Linked DNA regions of Homo sapiens. The protein of the gene in region 2 interacts with the protein of the main gene of each other region in a pairwise test. Each region holds a gene or a part of one and is shown on either strand. Other genes may lie near its edges.

Region 1 (7,832 bases), on a different chromosome or scaffold from region 2:
AGTTTATGGGTCCTACTCTTCACATGGGAGATGCTTTATATGGGAGAACACAATTTGGTGTGGAGGTTCTCTTTTTTGGAAATGTAGCAAGCAGGAAAGGTTTCTGGATCTTTGTGTGCACATGTGTGTATAAGCACACCTATGCATGTGTGCTTGCATATGCTTCTGTGCCTGTAATATGTATTAATGTCTAGGGGTGAGATTCTAATTAATATAAAGAAATTAATTTGCCTGAAGTATTTGCACTGGTAGATGGGTGTACATTTTGCTCTCTGGAAACCAGTGCATTCCTTAATAAAAATCTTAGATACAGACCAGACACTTTGCTGGGTTCTGCCTACCAGTCACACTCAGTACTGGGTCCTTGCTTGTCGGTAATTCCCTAAAGACATTGGAGAAGGAATCTATGTTCTCTCTCTGTCTCTCTCTCAGTCCTCCCCCCACCACCGTGTGTGTGTGTGTGTGTGTGTGTGTGTGTGTGTGTGTGTGTGTGTGTGTGTGTGTGTCTTTCGGGAATAGTGATTGAGGCATTGGATCTTTTCTCTTCAGGGCCATGTTTCCAGATAGAAAAACCCTGAAATGCATCTCTGAAAATGTGAAGTTTGATGAGGGAAGACAAGCGATTGTCTTGGTAGGGGTCATGGTGGCAGGTTGGCAAGATAGGGGTGGGAGCAATATACAGTCCTAGAGTGTATATTGCTGGGAGGAGTGGAAAGGGTATTGATCTAGCTGATTGATAAGCCTAGATTCTAGTCCTGGGCATGCCACTAACCCACTACTGAATGTTGGGGAATTCTCATTCCCTCTTTAGGCCACAGAGTCCTGCCTTTCTGCTCTTTAATATTCCTTCCAGTTTCGATCGTCTGTGAATTAGGAAAGAGAGAAAATGAGGCAGTTCCCAAAAATGGGTCTCCTCCTTGGCCCTAGTACCCCCTACCCAAGATAATCCAGGGAGCTCTGCCCTGACATGAGTTTCCTGAAGGAGATTCTCTGTGGCTATGTGAAGGCTTCAGCCTGAGGTATCAGCCTCTGGACAGAGAATGGTATGTCTGCAAGTGCCTGCAGGTAGAACCCACCCACTAGGGCAGGTTCCTACAAATACATGTTTGCTTTTATCTCTCCCCAGAATATGAACACATGTGTGTGTGTGTGTGTGTGTGTGATTGATATATATATATATATATATATCTTCCTAGAATATATGTGTACATTTTTTAGGCCAAATATATTTCTACTTTTTTCCCCTAAGAGGGCTTTTCAGCGGCCCCTCCGTGCTGAGCTAGACAAGAGGCTGTGTCCCAGCGTCACAGCCCTTGTCTTCTCCTAGCCTCCCTGCCTGAGAGCAGAACGGCTGCCGCTTACCTTGAGAAAGTAACAGCTGCCGAGTCTGGAAGCCATGCTAACAGCAGTAAAACTCAGCATTTTTGCTGAGTAGGGCAAGCCTTTAAGAGGCAGCTGGGAATCAAATCAATGGCTGGCCCCAGAGCCCAAGCCCAACAGTACCAAGCCAGGGTGGCCAAGGGACCTACCTAAAGAGCCTCCCAGGAGATGGAGGAAAGAAGAAAGAGGGCCTTGACCCAAACTACCTTCCTGGCTGAGATTCCTCCACCGCCCCCCTGCCCTTGGCAGTATTTTGGAGCCAAGTGAGAGACGCGAGGTGCAAACCGACAGCAGTTTAAGTCAATTACTGCCACATTCTGTCATGGGTTCCACACTCACAGCCCCTTTTCAAATTGTAGATCTCCCTCAGTACTGAAACACTCTCTCTCTCTGTCTCCCTCTCTCTCGCTCTTGCTCTCTCTCTCTCCCTCTCCACCTCTCTGCCTTCTCTCAATATCCCCCTAACTCCAGGGGAGCCATGGAGAGGCATATTTAGGGAGAGACTCTCTGGGGGCTTCCCCGCCTGAAATGGGGAAAGAAAGACGAATCTGTCTTAGGAAAGTGCCCCATCCATCTCCTTCCATATCATCCACAGCCGCCCCAGATGAAATTTCCTCTGAGACCCTTTGCAACTGTGATGGATGAGCAAGTCCCCGAGGACGCTTTCTCCTTTCCCCTGAGGGGGATCCATGCAAACTTGCCAGATCCTCCCCAAAACCAACAGAAGCCGGAGGGGCTCTGTTGATTGCAAACGGGGATGCAGGGTAAATCCCTATCCCAGACTTTCCAAGCCCCAGATAAGGAGCCCACCGCTGACTTCCCCCTTTCTCTGTCACCCACTATCCAGTGTCTCCAAATTCCCATCAGAATCTTGGAGTCTGCCCAGTGTAGAATTTAAAGTGACAGCGTCTCATTTGCCTCGGGGGTTGGCCATGTCTCTTTCATATTAAGCTGTGGGTCCCAGTGTAGCAGGATTCCACCGTTTGGAGGAATTTTCCTTCAAGCGTACCAACATTGGGCTAAATAAGGTGCCATCTACAGCCCCATAATCCTCCCCAAACCCCAAGCCCAGAGCCCCAAGAGGAAGTCCACAGCGGGTTTCCCGGTGACTACGTGATCCTATAGTAAGGGTCCCATTCCGTGTAAGCTGGAGAGACCTAATTAAAAAGACACACGAGGGCACACATACAAACACATACGTACAAACATGCACACACACATCGCGCCGTAAGTAGGTTATAGGACCTCTCTCTCTTCACCCCTCCCTTACACACACGGACACACACACACACCACGAACACACGCATCAAACGCAAACGACGCCGCACACGCAAACACACTAGCACCACATCAAGTTCCCACCATGGTGCACACGTCGGGAGCGCGCGGGGACACACACGCCACTCACTCAAACCCGCAATTAGCCCTTTGAGCCCCAGGCACAGGAACCCCCTCCCTAGAACTGGAGAAGACTTGGAGGCGGCGGGGCGGCCAGGTGAAGAGCGGACAAGGGTGCCGGTAGGGGGAGGGGCAGAGGAGCGCGGGGACGCCCCGAATGCGGCCCGGGGCCGGGTCCAAGGGCAGCGGGGCTGCGGGGCGCTGCACCCGGCGCCGCCTTACCTGGAGTCAATGTCCGTCTTTGGCGGAGAGCTGCGGGAGGACGCTTTTTATTCGGCTCGGTGGGAACTTGGGAGAGCCCTGCGTGCAGCTCGCATTCCGGGCACGGCGCGGGGACTGCAGGCGTGGGGGTACCTGGCTCCTAGCAGCCTGGCTCATACTCAGCCGTAAAGTCCCCTTCGCTGGTCCCGAGGACAGGCATGAATCCCGGCTCCGGAAGGCGGTCACTACTCCCTCTGCCTCCCGGCTCTCTCGCTCTCGCTCTCGCTGTTGCTCGCTCGCTCTCTCCCTCTCTCGCGGGTTCGCTCGCCTGCGCTCTCCTCCTCCCCGCGCGCCAGATCAGTTTGCAGCCGTGGGGTCCGGGAGCGAGGCGGCTGGCGAATGGAGAGGGAAGTCCAAGTGCGCCGCGGTCTCCGGGCGGGGAGCGGCGGAGGCCGGGCTACGCCGGGGGAGGGACTTAGCCGGCGACGGCCGAAAATGAATGGGGGAGCGGCGGCCGGGGGGCGGGGAGGGAGGAGCTGAACGCCGGGGTTGCTTCCGAGGAGTGTTTTGTACATCTTTAGGCGGAGGAGGAGGAGAAGCGAGAGGAGGAGAGACGGGAGGCCGCCTCGAGGGAAGGGCGGCCCGGGTGGGCTGGGGCTGAGCCGTAGGGAGTTTCGTGGGTCTGGGGCGTGTAGGGTGTTGTGTCTATGCGCACGAGCATCCAAAGGGACCGCGCATACGCGCAAACCCGGAATCCTGGTGCCCTTAAGCGTGACTGTACTGTGTGTGTCGCGAGTACCTGAGTGTTTCTGGGGCGGCAGGTGTTTCCACGGCCGCGTGGATCCATCGAGTGTGGGTTTTGTCTCGGGAGTTGCCCGTGTGGGTCCGTTTGTGTCTGCGCGTCTCTCTGTGAGTGTTTGACACTGTTTGTTTCTCTCGGTGTGTAGGCGAGAGCCCACGTAACCTCCCAGAATGAAGCAAGAGCTTCTCTACGTAGGCAGGATGTAGGAGGGAGAAGCTGAGGGGACACGAAGTTCTCTGGAGACCACCAGAGGCGGGGAAGGGGCGAGGGTACAGGGACTAAGACATGAAAATAAAAAGCAAAATACTCTGCAATCAGCCTGAATGCAGGCTGGGGCTGCTAACATAGGGCCTCTTCCTGAAGCAGAAAATAAAGCCCTCGTATGATAATTCCCACACAGCGCACATTTGGTATGTTTGTTTACTTTGCTTCCCTTCTGATTTAAACCAAATCAGCAATGCAGATCCCTAGTCCCCTGAAGATTAGGCAAGAATAGAAAGCATTAAGGCTACCAGATGGAGGGGCAGGAAGTCATAGGAAAAGGTGTTGGAATATGTAAAAGAGCCAGATTCAGTAGAAGTGCAGGCTCCAGAGAGGTTGGAGTCCTGTAGCTGTCTGGTCTTGGTGAAATCACTTACCCCTTAAGCCTCAATTCCTTGTCTGTTTAATAGAATAATAATATATCTACCCATCTAATAGGGTTGATGTGGAATTGTAATGAGTTAATATATGCAAAGGCACTTAGACTGCTCATGAGTTAATGTATGCAAAGGCACTTAGACTGCTCCCTGACACCTAGTGAGTGCTCAGTGCATGTTGTCTGCTTTTATGATTGCCATTGTATGTTTTTTGTTTGTTTTTTAATTCAAAGGATGATAAGAGAGAGATGTGACCACCAGGGAGGCCTAGAACAATCTAGGAGCCAGTGAACTAATTGGAGGAAGAGGAGTCTTGAAACAAAATGGAAGAGAAATGTTTGAGTGATGAACTGGGAACTCGGGAAAAATTATTTAATCGACAAAGAGAAAGGGAGAAAGAGAGGAGAAGACATCGAGCTAGCCAGAATGATCCTGGGTCTCAGAAGGTCAGGACTGAGGGGAGAGGAAAGGGAGAGGAGGAGCAGCCAGTGCAGAGCTTCTCAGCCTTCACTGGAATCCCAATGAGGAGGAGTCAGCACCACGGACAGCTCTCCAGCCACAAACCCAGTCAGCGATTTCTATTTTCGCCTGGTGGAAATTTCTCCCTTTTTTCTTGGGCAACTTTCTCTTTCCCTTGGCTTCTGGTCCAGGTTCAGGTCTTGAACACAGGTTCCCCAGGTCAGTTCTGACTTTGATTCTGACCACGAAGAAATACGCCCACCACACACACTCCTTCTCCCACCCACCGCGGTATGAAACCCCAGGTCACTATCTCTTGCCTCTCCTCCTTTCTTTCTTTTCTCTCTCTCTCTTTCTGTCTGTGCCCCATTCCTTCCTTTATTCGTCCCTATCTTTCTCTTTGTTTCCCCATCATCCCCCAGCTGAGATCTACTTCCATGACTGTTAGTAGGCAACAGCTGCCCTGCTGATAATGCAGTTCTGAAATCAATCTGAGACAACGTAGTCAGGCAACTTCAGGTGAAGACCAAAGTTCTGACTGATTCTTCTTAACCCTTTCCTTGTAATCAATCTCCCAAGATGGGTTGTGGTCTACATACCTTAGAAAGTGGGGACTTAATGCTTTGGAATACTGTCCAGTCTTTCTCTTCCTCACCCCACCCAGTCAATATTTCCCTAAAGAAAAAAAGAGCTCTTCTAGTTCCAACCAATACTACACAGAGAGAAAGAGGAGAGAGAATTTTGAACTTTTACCGTGCACCAAGCATTTTATTTGCAATGTTCTGAATATTATTGCTTACAGTTCTGAAAATACTTTGCAGTATGAATAGATAATACTATCCCATCTTTATGGCATAGGAAATTGAGTCTTGAAAAACTTGAGTATATGCCAAACTAGCTATATGCCAAAATATAGCTAGTAGGTGATGGAGTCAGGAATTCAACACCCAAGTCCAAGTCCAAAATCTTTATCCTCTGGGAATAATGGGGAAGCCCTGGGGTGATTGGAAGTTCTTGGAATTTTATGGGGTCACTGCACCCAACCCTAAATATCAACTTAGATGTCTGGATCCATTGCATTATCTGTGTCCCATCCCAATGGATGATTTAGTGTATCTTGTCCCTGGAGAAGGAGGTGAAGACTTTGCATGGACAGATTTAAGGCTCACTCGAGCCTTATGGTTTCTGAGTTTTGAATAAAATGCCAACCTTTCCAGGTCTTAGTTCATTTGCATTTGGCTCAGTTTAGCTTTCCTGTTTCTATGAAGAAAGGCTAAGAGGGCCATTTTAAAATGTCTCCGAAGACACCTTGGTCATCAGAAAAGTTCTCAGTGCAAAGCATTTCTAATGACTTATGGAGAATGCAATCAAAACCATATGGATAACATTTTTGCAGAAATACACACGGGTGGGAAAAGGTTTAGAGGCCAAAAATATATTTCTTTTTTTCTTCTTTGCCAAAGAAAGAACATTTAAGGCAGCTTGAGATATGTGAGAAATGTCTTGTTCTTTCTTTGGGGTGGGTGTTGGTGAGCAGCTGTTTGCTATTTCCACCGAATTTACTAAGGGCTTCCATGGGGAGGAGCTGCCAACAGATTAGGATAGACTTAAGAAAGAACTTCCTGTCTGTAGATTTTGGGGTGACACTAAAATAGGACCTTTTGTACAATGGCATTTAATAAGAAAATGGAATGTTTCACAGCATTTCATTCATAGTATGATAGATTTGAAAATCAATGGATAATATTTTTAATATCACAGACTGTTTTAAGAACCTCACTATTGCTATAGACCCTCTCTGTTGTGGAAAATGTACTATAAAAAATCTCACACAATTTTACATGGAGTTTCACTAAATTTGTCTTTGCCAATCTCATTTGTGAATATCTATCCCTGGACCCCAGCTTTAGGACTCTAGAATAGGTGGCTTTTCTGGCCTGTAATCTGACCTTAGATTTTATAGGTTGCTTTACTTAGACTTAAGCTTAAGAAATTGCAAAGGGAAATCCAGTGAATAAATTAATAAACAGGTAAGCATCATTTTTTTCTAGAAATAGACAAGAAATATAGATAAATGTTCAGTGATGAAATGGAGGTTTCACTTACCCCTCCTTAAATAAAGATAAGATTTTGTCCTGTTTGTGCAGGACTCTCAGCCACCTGCCACTGTCTCAAAAGCTTAAGTTCACTACTCCTGTCAAATCTCAAAGGAGTTAAAATCCCTTAATCTGGGGTGCTTTGGGTTCAGAATAGGCTGAACAACTGCTGAAAGAAGCCTGTATTTCTTAAGCGCCTACTGACTGTGAGGTAGTATGAAAGATTCCGAGATAAATATCTTGCCTGGTCTCTGTCTTCTAGGAGTCTGAAATCCATTGCAGAGCCATACTCATGCCTAAATAATCAGAATACACCATAGAATGTAGCAGGCATGCTCAGGGTCTATAGGAAATATTGAAAAGCTAAAAGGAGGAAAATTTTGCCTCAATGTTAGGTATAACATTTTACACCTATAAACAGCTATTTTTCTTTAGTTTTAAAAACAGTTGAATTCATAATAACTGATATTTATTGAGTGATTAATATGTGTGAGCAACATTTAAGCCTTCCATGTCTCTCAACTAGGCTATTATGAGCCTCTTTTCATTGAATAAAAAACGCTGGCCTAGCGCAGTGGCTTATGCCTGTAATCCCAGCACTTTGGGAGGACAAAGCAGGTGGATCACGTGAGCTCAGGAATTCGAGACCAGCCTGTGCACCATGAAGAAACACTTTCTACAACAACAACGACCAAAAAAAAAAAAAAAAAAAAAAAAAAAAAAAAAAAAAAAAACTACAAAAATTAGCCAGGCATGGTGGTATGCCCTTGGGAGTCTGAGCTGGGAAGATGGCTTGAGCTTGGGAGACAGAGGTTGCAGTGAGCCGAGATCACACCACTGCACTCCAGGCTGGGCTAC
Region 2 (7,655 bases):
CAAAGAAGTCTTGATTCTAATCCCAAAGAGCTTTTAATGTGGGAAGACATAAAGCCAGGGTATTTAATGCATGGGAGATAGTGCAGTCACAGAACCCAAGGCCTTCCTACTCCACGTGTGGCTCCACCAGCGGCAGCATCTCCTGGAAGTTTGTTAGAAATACAGACTGTCCAGTTCCACCCAAGACTGACTGAATGTGATTTTTGTCTTAACAAGTCCCTAGGTGAATCATTTGCATGCTAAATATTTGAGAAGTACTGACCCAGGGGGTGGGGTTGGGATCTGGGACTGATTCTTACAGGAAATAAATCCTGAGCTGTGTTTTGAAGATGAGTACGGTTAACCAGGTGGTGTTCCAAGCAGAGGAAACAACATAAGCAAAAGTTCAGTGGTATGAAAAAGCACAGGGGTGTTTTGGGAACCTGTCGCCTAAAATTGGTAATCAAAAGAGAGAGTGTGGGAGAGAGGAGGCAAGGGAAATGCAGAGAGATGACGCAGTTCAGGCAGTGGCCAGATCCTGCTGCATGTGTTCTAGGGTAAGGAGATTTGACTACACCTAATCCTTGACAGAGACGCATGATGACATGTTGAGATTTGCATTTAGATCACTGCAACCCTGAGGAGGCTGAAAGACAGAGAGATTAATTAGGAAGCTGAGGCAATAGTTTTGGAGAGAGATAATGAGAGTCTAAACTTAGGTTGTGGCAGTGGGGATGAAGAGGAGGGGGCAGGTTTAAGATATTTTAGGCACTAATAAACAGATGAAAGACTTCAGAATGGATTGGAGGTGGGAGGATGAGGGAGGGCTGAGTTTTGACTAGATGACTCGTAAGCTGGGATTAGTGTGTGGCTGTTCATGATGCCACTAACAGAGATGAAAGGATACAGGAGGACGAACAGGTTTGAAATTATGAGTTCAGTTTTCAAAATGTTCAGCTTAGGTGAATATAAAACATGTATAGATGGTCTCTGACTTACTATGGTTTGACTTTATAGCTGTGTGAAAGTGACGTGCATTTAGTAGAAACTATAATCCAATTTTGAATTTTGATCTTTTTGCAGGCTAGTGACATGAAGTAGGATACTCTTTTCCAAGGCTGGGCAGCGTCTCCCAGTCAGCGATGTAATCACAAGGGTAAACAACTGATATTCTACAATGTACTGTGCTGCCAGATGACTTTGCCCAACTGTAGGCTAATGTAAATGTTCTAAGCACATTTAAGGTAGGTTAGGTGAAGTTATGATGTTCAATAGGTTAGGCATATTAAATGCATTTTTGACTTGTGATATTTTCAGTTTATGAAGGGCTTATTGGGATGTAACCTCAAGTAAGTGGAGAAGTATCTGCATAGAAGGGAAAAAAGGAGGAAACAAGAAAAGGGTGGAGAACAGGGTGAATCAATCAGGATGGAGGAGGAAAAAATGCTCTGCCCATTTCCGGGGCAACAGTAATACACATAGTGTATCTGTGAGCTTTTCTTGTAGTTGTATTTCCAGAGGTTGCCTCCTTGAAACTTGGTTCCAGCAACTGGGTGGACCCTGAAAAAAGGTAAATAATTTGATTCATGGTTTCCTATCTGGTGATCAACTCATTGTTGCCACCGTTTGCTCTATGAAAAAAAAAAAGTTTTTTAATCTGTGGTTCAAACTGCTCCAATGTCAGTTTGTCTTTTTCCAGATTCCTGAATGTTTGAATAACTTTGTCCATGTCTCAAACACTGTTTCCAAAGTGGCAATAATACAATCCAGTATGTGTGTGTGTGTTTCTATAGGTCATCCTTCAAGCTCTGGATGACTCTTCTGCCACAAATCTTACCCATCTGTGAACTGTTACAGCTCTTTTATTTGCACCTTAAAATTCAGAACTGGATCATAGCCTGTCTCTAAAGTTATTTTTTCTAGACTTGACATTTTCTCAAGGAGTACAGGTTACTGAAACAGAAGAGAAATTAGTCCAATAACATCTCTTTTAAATGTCTTGAAAATAAACATTGGTGACAGTTTTGGTTCATTATCAAATCAGAACCCCTGAAGTGAAACCTGAGTATTGGCACTTACTAAAAGTGCCCTGGAGGATTCCAGAGTAGAGTCACAATCAAGAACCACTGACTTAAATGGCCAAGAGAGCCCCCCACCTCCGCATCACTAAGTATATCTTCAAAGAAAATGAAACATAATATTTGGCTAAAGAGAACTTTTAACAAACACTAATCATTAATAAATAATAAATCTTGTTTTAGGCCAAATATATATTTTACATTATGAAAGTGCTCAAGAATTTGGAGATATAGAAGAACACATAATCATGTGTATATAAAAAGTCATCACAAAAAGAATCATCGTTCATGTTTTAGAATTCTTTTTTTTTTTTCTAGGCAAGAACTTTAATGAATTGAACTGTTACTGACAACATAAAAAACCAGTATAATATATACAAAATTATCATTTTATGTCAGGATAAAATTTATCATGTTGGCAACAGAATATGTCCTGCCGACCTCCAAGTGGCTGGCACAGTACATCCACCCCGTGACAGGCCCACTGGGACTGTGGTGAACGTGCCTGTACCTCAGTACAAAGTCCCCTTTCCCTGAGAAATGTACAGAAGGAGAGATGAAGAGCGCGTATCCAAAAGGAAGAGGAAGAGGCTGGGTGCCCTGTGCCCCGAGCTCAGAACTTCGGGGGGATGACCGGCCAGTAATTAGGCTGCTTTGGATCACAGTGCTTGTCAAAGCTCAGCTGCACGTTAGCCTCCATGGCCTGGATCTTGGCGGCGCTGTCCCAGTACAAACGCTTCATTTCGGCCTGGCGCCGCTCACCAGGCCTCTCAGCTGGGGCCTCTACCGACCGGCGGGTGTTGCAGTACAGGTCGTGTTCAGCGTTCACGTAGCTGTTCAGGCGCTCCGCATCCAGCTGTTGCCGCCGCAGTAGTTCTTCTCTGTGCCTCTCTGTCTCTGCAAAGTACTGGCGGAGCTCTTCGGTGATTTCCATATTGCTCAGGTCACATGCTACCTCTGCATCTGACTCGGTCTCCATCTCTTCCTCCTTGGATAAGGCTTGGTCTTCTCTTGTGGATGCCTGGATCCTACTGCTGCCATGTGGATGTTGCCCAGACCCTCTGAAATGTGAAGAACTGCAGGGGGAGTCCTGCTAGGCCACATGATGGTCATAGAAGGACTGAGGATACGCAGCCTGGTTATCGTAAGAGCTTTGGGGAAGAAGCGCAGGAAGGAAGAACCATGGAAGACTGAAACAGGATTCCACCGCCTTCCTGTAGGCATTGTGGTGGCTTTGCATCCAAGCCATTGCTTGATGATAATGTTGCCAGTATCTTGCATATACTGGATGAGAATACCAAGGCCTGGTAGCTTTTGATGTTGATGCCTTCACCACTGCCATCTCCGATTGTGAAAGTCCAAATGGGTGCCGAAACTTGTGGGCGCGCAGCTTGCAGATCCTGGGCGGTGGCCAAGCAGGCCATGTTTTAGAATTCTTTCCAGGCGGGTCGCATTGGCTCACGCCTGTGATCCTAACACTTTGGGAGGCGGAGACGGGGCTGGGGGTGGGGGGATCGCTTGAGTCCAGGAGTTGGAGACCTGCTTGGGCAACATGGCAAAACCCCCATCTCTATAAAAATAATTTAAAAATTTTTTAAAAGAATTATTATTTCCATTTTATTTCAGTGCTTTGTCCTTTAAGAAAATTTATTGACATAGCGATAATCAGACTCCATACGCTATTTTGTATCTTGCTTTTCAAATTTGCCACAGGCTTCTAGAAACGTCCCAGACTTCTGTGTCTCCATGGAGGAAACCCCGTAAGTACTTACAAATGTTATGATTAGTCATCCCTAGCCAATACTAAGCAAAAGGTAGGCATGCGGTTTTATTAGTTTGGGCAGGAAGAAGGCATTCCAACCGGCTTCTTTCGCTCTTGCCAGGTTCAAACATGGCGGGCCGCAGCCGGCCCTTCCCGTACACTCGGCTTGCTTTCCCACAACCCCCGCCAATCTTTAGCGCTCCTTTTTTACCTTCCTTCCCCGTCAGCGGCTCCAGAGGGTCAGCACCTCCGAGCGTGACAGCGGACCTGCTTCCCGCCCCCCACGCGAGGGCCCGCCCACCAGCCCGCGTCAGCCAATAGCAGGCCGCGCCGATGGGGCTGGTAGCGCCGGTCGGCCCCGCCTCCCCAGCCTCGCTGTGGCCTGCGGCTCCCGGGCTGGTAGCGCGCCGCTCTCGGTCGCGCGGAGTGATCGTGTGGAATCGCGGGTCGCGGACGCTCGCCGCCGGCCATAGCTCAGCCTAGCGCCGCCAAGGCCGACGGCCCTCAGCCTCTGCCATGGACTTCGAGGACGGTAAGCGCTGCCTCTGGCTGGTCGGCGCAGCTGGCAGGAGGCGGGGTGGCCTACGCAGGGGGTCTGTTTACCGTCTCAAGATGGCCGTGTGGGCTTTGTTCTGCGGGCCCGGAGGCCGCCCGCCCGCCCCGGGCCCAGCGCCCGGAGTCGGCCTCTTTGGGGACCCACGCGCCCCGATTCGGCCCGCTCGGCGCCCGCTGCCGGCGGAGACAAGAGAACTCGGTGTCCGGTAGGACGCGCCTAGAGCGCGAGAGCCTCCGGGCTGGAGCCCCAGACTCGCCTTGGCCCCTGGTAGTGGAAATTGCCCCGACGTCTCCAACTTCCCGGTCTCGGGCAAACGGGCGAGTGCGGCCTCACCCACCTAGTCTCGCATTCGCCCCACAGGGCAGCGACCCAGACCGTCCGTTTAGTTAATCCTCAGCCTCGGGTTACTTCTTGCCAGATAGAATTTTCAGAGGCTTGTTCACAGTGATGTTTCTGTTTGTCCCGGTTTAAGATGAGTTGAAAGGGTGTCTGTAAGTGATATGTATAGATAAATATCTATGCAAAATGGAAAGCAAGATGTTTCCTGGTTAGTAAACTGGGGTGTTTATCACCAAAAATTACCTGCTTATTAATCCCTAACTTGAAATATTTATGTGAACCAAAGCACTTTTCTTTGGATCGTGTGTAGGTAGGATTTAAGTTAATCAGAATTTTGGCACAGCAAGCATCAAATGTCCTTCACATTTAGACCTGTACACAGCCTTGTAAGTGTTTGACTTACGGATTAAATAAACTGTATTTTAGCAATACTTTTCAGTTGTCTCAGATACTAATTCTTTAAACCACTTTTACAGGGTCACAAAGTAATATTAATTTGGTCTTCACTTTTGTTTTCAAACCTTGCTTGGAATTGGTGTCAAGATAAAGTGGTATGTAGTGACAACATTAGGGAGACATGGGAAAGGACTTATGTGATTAAACTGGATTTAATCCTGAGTAACCAGGCATGCTTAAGTAAAACCAGTTCACTAAGTAGGCTGTAAACTTTTAACCCCACCAAAAAAATGATCTTTAAATGAGGTGTGATCTCAGCATATGTCTTACTCGATGAGCTTTTGATTTTTCATAACATTTCATGCAACAAAGAATTAAAGCTTTCATATCTAGGTACAGATTTGTGAAAGGGGACTGGAATAGCCCTCTTGTAGATACTTTTCAGTTACTTTGAAATAGTAAGTTCAGCTCTTAAGAGTAGCACACTCTCGTGGTTTTGTTTGTTTTGGTTGGACTTTAACTCATTTTGATGTAGATACCTTTAAACTATGAATATTTGGGCTGGGCACGATGGCTCACACCTGTAATCTCAGCACTTTGGGAGGCGGAGGCAGAAGAATCCCTTGAACCCGGGAGGCGAAGGTTGCAGTGAGCCGAGATCGTGCCATTGCACTCTAGCCTGGGCAACAAGAGCCAAACTTCGTCTGAAAAAAAAAAAACAAAAAACCAACAACAAAACAAAAAACTATGAATATTTGAAGTGGCCAGAGTTGGGAGTGAAAATAAAAAATATATTATTGTATTTTCATGCTGTAGTTTGATGATAATGCCAACACCCAAGGTATAGCAGAGGCTAACAAAGTGGAGGTGGGGCAGTAGAAACAGTTCTTTCCACTCCCCACCCAAGGCAATAAGGGAATCCATTTCTATGGAGAATTGAAAAACAATAATAAAATGTAGTATGTCTGCTTTCTGTTATTGCCATATGCCAGAATTCTAAACAGTGTCAGTGATAGAAATTCTAAACAATATTAGTGATGAAATACGCCCTGTCTCACTGCCCAAATATACCACTGCTGTATTTGGAAGATGGAGTTTGACTAACACCATATATGAATCTATTCCTGTATAGTGTAGCAGGATTCTGTTGTATCCAGATGACCACTATATTAAATTCTGTTCTTTCAGTATATATTTGTAAAATTAACTAAAGAATTTAACAGTTGTTAAATTAGTTTTGATGAGGAAATTGGCAATATGGTTTTCAGTGATGACACATTCTGCTTGAATATAGAACACAGTCATATATGTATATGCATATGCATGTCTCAGATAAGATCTTGAAATCTTTTTTTTTTTGAGACAGAGTCTCGTTCTGTCGCCCAGGCTGGAGTGCAGTGGTGCAGTCTTGGCTCACTGCAGCCTCTGCCTCCTGGATTCAAGTGATTCTTCTGCCTCAGCCTCCCTAGTAGCTGGGACTACAGGCACGCACCACCAGGCCCGGCTAATTTTTATATTTCCAGTAGAGAAAGGGTTTCACCATATTGGACGGGCTGGTCTCGAACTCCTGACCTCGTGACCCGCCCACCTCACCTTCCCAAGTGCTGGGATTACAGGCGTGAGCCACCGTGCCCGGCCAAGATCTTGAAATCTTTAAAGAGCAAATTAAATGGTAAAAGAAATTAACTTAGCAAAAATTTCATGTTACGTACAATTCTCAGATGTCTTTGCTTTTGCATTATTTGATACATAATTTAATCTATCTGCCTTTGTGTTACTTGGTACAAATCAGTGCTGAATCCCCTCTTTTGGCTGTTATTATGTATCAGGTGTTGTAAACTAATGTTTACCATAATTTGGATAATAAACCTACCATTTGGGGAGATAGTGAAGAAAAAAGAGATACATTTTCTGGAATGGAGTATTGGTAATTATTTGTTTTAACTATTCTCAGTTTTGCAGATAATTGGGTTAATGTCATTTTAAAAATTGTGCTTGTTTTTTACTGGATCGGCATATAATTTTGAATTATTGCTAATATCACACTAATTCCTTTTTGTTAAATGTGTCTTCATAGATTACACACACTCCGCCTGCAGGAATACTTATCAGGGCTTTAATGGTAAGTATCCTCTTTCAGCTTTTCTCTTCATGCGCATAAAAATATAGTATCAATGTAAAAGGCCAGTTCTACCTATTTCAGTCCTTGTTTTGGTTCTTGATATATCATTTATGTGTTAATATTGTCTTACTATATATAGTATTTGAATTGGGGAATGTGCTATCAGAAAATGTTAGGGGTTATTCACATTAGTTTGATTTTTTTTTTGGTCCATTTTGTTTGAATTATGATTATTTTAATGTGTTCCAAAGGGCCTAACTACATTCTGAGTGATGAATCACAAGACACTGGCTGAGTTATTTTGGTTGAATTAGAGGCTTTGGTATTGAGTAATGTAGACTAAGTGGATTATTGGCTTGGTTCTATATAGCTTGTATTGTAATGCATTTTGACCTTGTTTTTGAGGTCATTTTCTTCAGTGTG

The links. The genes of interacting proteins can lie anywhere in the genome.
Region 1: the proteins of ZNF326 (region 2) and BRINP1 interact in binary tests that used the Homo sapiens proteins (3 or more experiments, as listed by UniProt).

The regions. Positions count from the first base shown.
Region 1 is NC_000009.12:119,366,056-119,373,887, forward strand, and holds the start of BRINP1 (BMP/retinoic acid-inducible neural-specific protein 1 precursor), read right to left. Parts: upstream 3,381-7,832; 5' UTR 3,001-3,380; intron 1-3,000. UniProt on the Homo sapiens protein: Plays a role in neurogenesis and brain development. May suppress cell cycle progression in postmitotic neurons by inhibiting G1/S transition.
Region 2 is NC_000001.11:89,990,923-89,998,577, forward strand, and holds the start of ZNF326 (DBIRD complex subunit ZNF326), read left to right. Parts: upstream 1-4,187; 5' UTR 4,188-4,335; coding exon 4,336-4,351; intron 4,352-7,187; coding exon 7,188-7,232; intron 7,233-7,655. UniProt on the Homo sapiens protein: Core component of the DBIRD complex, a multiprotein complex that acts at the interface between core mRNP particles and RNA polymerase II (RNAPII) and integrates transcript elongation with the regulation of alternative splicing: the DBIRD complex affects local transcript elongation rates and alternative splicing of a large set of exons embedded in (A + T)-rich DNA regions.